Linked DNA regions of Homo sapiens: region 1 is linked to region 2. The links come from fine-mapping of genetic effects on gene expression. A gene starts in region 2. The other region holds a variant in brackets. All regions are shown on one strand. Distances are between the middles of the regions.

Region 1 (2,896 bases), 470 kb before region 2:
AAACCTTAAGAAATGACCAGTGTCTGCTGCTTTAAGCCACCAAGCTCTGCGGTGGTTTGTTAGGCTGCAAGCATGGCTAATTCAGAAACTGCCAGAAACAAGCACTGCTGTCCCCAGCCTGGGACACACAGCACCGCCTCTGCGTGGGGAGAGGGCACAGGCTAAGGGCACAAATGCCATCCCAGACCCGGCTCTTGTGTGTGGAAGGGGCCACTGTGCCATGAGGCAGAGGAAACCTTGGCAGGACCTTATGCCACAGCAATTTAAAAGAGAAGAAACAGGCTGGGCGTGGTGGCTCATGCCTATAATCCCAGCACTTTGGGAGGCCAAGGTGGTGGATCACTTGAGGTCAGGAGTTCAAGACCAGCCTGGCCAATATGGTGAAACCCTGTCTCTACGAAAAATACAAAATTTAGGCAGGCGTGGTGGCGGGTGCCTGTAATCCCTGCTATTCAGGAGGCTGAGGCAAGAGATTTACTTGAACCCGGGAGGTGGAGGCTGCTGCAGTGAGCTGAGATCATGCCACTGCACTCCAGCCTGTGTGACGGAGTGAGACTTGGTCTCAAAAAAAAAAAAGGAAACACATCTGACTAGTGTGATCTCGCAAGGAACATTCCAGACACAGTGGAGCTAGAAGGTTCTTCTCCAAACAAGGAATCCCCAGGGGATCAAATTGTTTTGCATCGGCCAGACATGGTGGCTCAAGCCTGTAACCCCAGTGCTTCGGGAGGCTGAGGTGGGAGGACTGCTTGAGTCCAGGAGTTCAAGACTAGCTTGGGCAACACAGTGAGAGCCCATTAGCCAGGCGTGGTGGCACATGCCTGCAGTCCCAGCACTGTACTAAAAATCTACACGGGGCCGGGCATGGTGGCACATGCCTGTAGAGTCCCAGCTACTCAGGAGGCTGAGGCAGGACGATTCCTTGAACCCAGGAGGTCACGGCTGCCATGAGCCGTGACTGTGCCACTGCACTCCAGTCTGTGCAACAGAACGAGACTCTGTTTCGAAAAACAAAAAATCATTTCATGTCTCCAGTTTCTCCACTGGCAAAAGACTCTGTCAAGGTAAAAAATGGTTCTGACCCACAGAAATCTAAGAAAGGAAAAAATATAAAAAATAGAAAATTTAAAAAAGAGATGGTCTCAGAATAAAGACCAACCTGGGCTATGGTTGTCACTCTTCCCTCACACCTTAGAAAGCTTTCTGGCCGCATCTGGCCAAAGGGCCACCCTGCCCCATCTTGGATCAGTGAGGTGCCTTCGAACAAGCCACCTGCCCTGGAGCCCGTCCTGTCTTGTCTGCCACCGCACGCTCAGTAGGGGAGGGGAAGTCGCTAGGTTTTAGTTCACCAGTCTCTGGATCAAGACGTGCCATAACCAAGAAGCCCCAGCCACACCCAGACCCGA[C/T]GTGGCCACAAGGGGTGAGCTGGGAAGGCCCAGGAAAAGGCGGGAGGCGGACGAATGGAAATGTCATTCTGTGGCCACAGAAATGATCTCAACGTTTTGTAACTTCCTACCAAGAGGCAGTCTTAGCTCTGCCCTTGAACCAGCACTTGGTGATGTCGCTTGCGTCAATCAAGGCAACAGAAGTGAGCAGGAGGCCCACTTTCCTCTGCAACTGTGGGCTTACGGGGCAAAGAAGTCCAGGCCTCCAGGTGGAGGATCACAGACCGGGCAAAGCAGAGGAGAGCCACCCAGCCGAGCCTACCTGTGCCTCAGACTGCCTCCCTCCAGAGACCCCTGTGGCCAAGGCCACCCAGACCAGCAGGTCCTTGCCAAGCTGTCAGCTGACGACAGGGGTTGGTGAGGCCGGCCCAGACCAGCAGAACCACGAACCAACCAACAGAATTAAAAATAATAACAACTATGTCTTGTCTTAAGCCACTAAGTTTTGGATGGTTTCTTTCTTTCTTTTTCTTTTTTTTTTTCGGAGACGCAGTCTCACTCTGTTGCCCAGGCTGGAGTGCAGTGGCGCAATCTTGGCTCACTGCAAGCTCTGCCCCCCGGATTCACGCCATTCCCCTGCCTCAGCCTCCTGAGTAACTGGGACTACAGGTGCCTGCCATTGGGTGTTTTCTTAAACAGCAAAAGAAAACTGACACAATCATAAACAGAGCAAGCAAGAGAACTTGGCAATTATTTCCTCTCTACTTCTCACTGTTCTTCAAAGAGTTAACTCAAGCATAAGATGTGAGCAAATTCTTTTAACATCCTAGAAAAAAAGCTCCTACTCAGTGTTCATAAAGCAAAGCTAACCTACAGGAGCCACCTTCCACAGTGACCACAGGAAACCAAGACAGCAAGTGGGACACCAGCCTCCAGGGCACTGCGCCAGCCGTGCGCCTGTGTCTGCCACTGCCCTGGTCCGTCACTGCCACCAGCCGGCAAGACACCCACAGAGGAGAGCTCTAAGCCACAACTGTGTACGAAGACAACTGTGCAGGATTTTATTACTACAACATTTTTGTTTTCTTTTTTTTTTTTTTTTGAGACTGAGTCTCGCTCTGTCACCCAGGCTGGAGTGCAGTGGCACAATCTCGGCTCACTGTAACCTCCATCTCCCTGGTTCAAGCAATTCTCCTGCTGCAGCCTCCCAACTGGATTACAGGCGCCCGCCACCACGCCTGGCTAATTTTTGTACTTTTAGTAGAGACGGGGTTTCACCATGTTGGCCAGACTGGTCTCAAATTCCTGACAAGTGATCCACCCACCCTGGCCTCCCAAAGTGCTGGGATTACAGGTGTGAGCCACTGCGCCTGGCCCATTTTTGTTTATCAATAAAAATGTACTTAATGTTGAACTCTCCACATTTCAAATGGGTAACTCCAGTGTCCTTGATGCTCCTGCGACATGTTCGTGAGACTTCTCTTGGGTGTGAGAGTCTAGCATGTGGGTGG
Region 2 (2,838 bases):
CGGTGTGTGAATGGCCCTCAGAAGAGACAGTGCTGGAGTTCTGCACTCTTAGGGCCCCCAATACCCCCGAGGCCTGGGCATGCAGAGGCCACTGCCCTGGCCCAAGTCTGGGGCAGGTGCAGCATCCCCTGGGACCTTGGCCCCTCACCACCGGCCCAGTTTCCTCTGAGACTGGGGGTCCCACGGGCTCCTAGCAAGTAGATGAGGAGACCGAAAGTAGCCCTGCAGCTGGGCTTTCTTTCAGGGGTCAAGTTTCTAGGGAAAGGAAGGGGCGTGGCAACCTGAGGTTTGGTAGCTGTACCCAGACGGGGCTGTCTGTGGCTTCCCCAGGCAGCAGTTCTTCCTCCTCTCTGTCCCCACCCAGGGTCCTCCCCCACACTCTAGCACCCCTGAGACTGTCCCCCTGGGCTACCATCTCCACCCCAGCTCTGAACTGGAGGAGGGGACGTGTTTAGGGGTGCAGGGCCGGGGTGCTAGGGGCTGCATTTGCTGCAGAGCAGGGAGCCAGCCCCTTCTTTCCCAGTTGCAGGCCCTGGACCTGGTCACCTGTCCCTGGACCTGGCTTCCTGTACCCTTCTCAGGTCAACTGGGGCAACCCATGTCCCCAGGCTACCCTCCCCCCGTCTCTCCTGGGGGATACAGAGTCTCAACTAGGGTCCTCCTGCTTGTCAACCTGGCATTGGGGACCCCCTTCCCCAGCCTCCCAGGCTTTGGCCCCCAAGTCTGGGATGGGATAGGCTGGATAGGCGGCACGTCTGCTCTCTGGGGATAGAGGATCCCTTGGGAGTGGCTGCCGCTTTGCTCCACAGAAGGAAAAAGAACGTCCCAGAGCCTGCCCAGTCCAAAAAAAGAATAAGAAAATGTGACAATCCCAGAAAAAAATGTCATAACCTTTGGGAGGGGGGTTGAAGAGGGGCTCCATTCTCAGTCCTTAGCTCCTACCCAGGGCCTTTCCCATCTGCCACCCTCCACATCTGGCTGGTGGGCGAGCCCTGGCCTGGCCCCTCCAGGGAAGGCCAGCTCTCCCCACCTCTGAAATGGTGGTGGTGGCCCACCCACCACGCTCCTCTCTCTGCTGTTAGGGTCCAGTCTGGAGAAGCCTGTGTTCTCCTCCAGGTGCCTCTTTCTTCAGCCTCTGACGCCCCCACCCCTACCTCAAAGCTCCCTACTCACCAGCGACCCAAAGGCGGGGTGGGGGCAGGAGGGGCCAGGTTGGGTCTGGGCCCCACCCTGGCTGCCGAAGGGGCGTGCACTGCAGCAGCAGGGACTCAAGTCAGACGGCAGGAGGGACTCCTGCGGCGCTCTGGAGGGAGGCTAGCGCCAGGAGCCCCCGATCGGCTGGGGCCGGGGGCGCAGCGCCTCCCCTACAGCTCGAAGGGCTGAGTGGCTGCCAGATCCAGCGGGGTGGGGGCGGGGGCGGACAGGGTGTCCCGCCCCGGCCCCTCCTCACCGGGCTGAGAGGGGGAGGGAGACGCGGAAACCTGGGTTCTTCCGGCCCCCACCTTTGAGCAATCACTTCCCCAGGCTTTGAGCTCCAGAAAAAGGGGAACCCGGCTGCGGCGCCCCCTCCCCCACGCGCGGGGGGCGGGCTCCACTTCCACTGCGGCCCAGGGTCCACGTGGACCTGGCGGCGGGAGCCCTTGGGGTTCGAGTCCCGTGCGCCGGCTCCCGAAGCTCCCGCCCAGCACGGTCCCCGGGCCCGGGCCGGGAGGGGCAGGGCCGCTGTCCCCGGCGCTGCGCGCGCGCACTCACCAGCCGCGCTCCCGAGCCACTCGCGCCGCCGCCGGCCCGCGCGCTCCAAGGTCCGGCCCGACAGTCGGGGAGGGGGCGCGGGGGCGCAGTGCGCAGGCGCCTCGGCGGCACTTCCCCAAAGCCAGGGGCCGGGACTTCCTCGCGCCGGCGGTCGCCGGGCCCGCCCCGCCCGCCGCGCCCCGCCCCGCGCTCGGCCGGCTCCGCACCCCACCCGCCCCGCCCGCGCGTCGGCCCCCACAGTCGCCTGGGGGTGGCCCGGAGAGTCGAGGTGCTCATAGTGGAGCCCTGGCTCCCGGGCGGACGGAGCCGCACGGTAGTAGATGGGGGTGTGGCCGTGGCCCCCGACTCTGCTCGGCGGGGCCGTTCCTGCTTTGCCATCCGTGTGGGACTTCCACGACAGTGGAGGCACGAGAGCTGGGCCCCATATGCTGCTTGCCCAGCTTGGGAAAGAGGAGGCTGCTGCAAAGGACCGATCGGCGGGTACGCCAGCCCGGCCCACCCCTCGCCTCCGTGAGCCGCGTCTGTAAAACTGGGTTAAGAGCCGCCTGTCTGTGCTGTGGGGGGTTCCCAAGGAAGGGGGAGATTCCTGTGCTGCGGGGCTGGGGAGAACTGGGGGTGCGGGTTCTTGCATCCGGAGTCATGCCGAATGTCTCCTGTGGGGCCTGGCAGAGTCCCTGCTGACCCGTGTGTCCCAAGATGTCCTAAAGCTTAAGGCCACACTGTCCCCTTTGCCACGAACGCCCTGTCCCTTTGGCCGACTCTTCTCATCCTTTATGACTCGGTACAGACGTGGGTTAGGCTTCTCATCGCAGCATGCTTTGGCCCTGTGTCAGGGTGGCCCTGACCCTGCTCTGGAAGTGTCTGCAGAGCATCTGTGCCCCCCGCCCCTCCCCTGGCCCGGCTGTGTGCAGCTCCTGTCCTCCCCAGCACAAGCACTCCACCCGGATAGTTCCCAGTGTCGGGATCTGTTCATAAAATGCCTTCCAGTTGCACAGGTCAGGTGCACACCTTACACCTTCACAGAACTCTGAGGGGTGCAAAGGCAGCTGGAGATTCTACTTGTATTCCTCATTCAACGGACAAGTA

The links. PIP is the estimated chance that this variant, and not a neighbour inherited with it, causes the effect. A credible set is the group of variants that fine-mapping cannot tell apart.
Region 1: its variant is the best candidate, but not a certain one, in a credible set for the expression of RGS19 in whole blood (TOPMed, PIP 0.63).

Annotation. Positions count from the first base shown.
Region 1 is chr20:63,611,051-63,613,946 of GRCh38, forward strand. The region is part of intron 2 of GMEB2 (glucocorticoid modulatory element binding protein 2); the gene reads right to left. Among named protein-coding and RNA genes, the nearest start is that of GMEB2, 15 kb to the right of the region's middle. The variant C/T (reference allele first, on the strand shown) is at 1,407.
Region 2 is chr20:64,078,121-64,080,958 of GRCh38, forward strand. It overlaps RGS19 (regulator of G protein signaling 19), which reads right to left and starts at 1,398. Exons shown (of 6, transcript NM_005873.3): 1 at 1,174-1,398. OPRL1 (opioid related nociceptin receptor 1) reads left to right here and starts at 1,962. Exons shown (of 5, transcript NM_182647.4): 1 at 1,962-2,232. RefSeq lists silencers at 1,300-1,979, 2,373-2,546.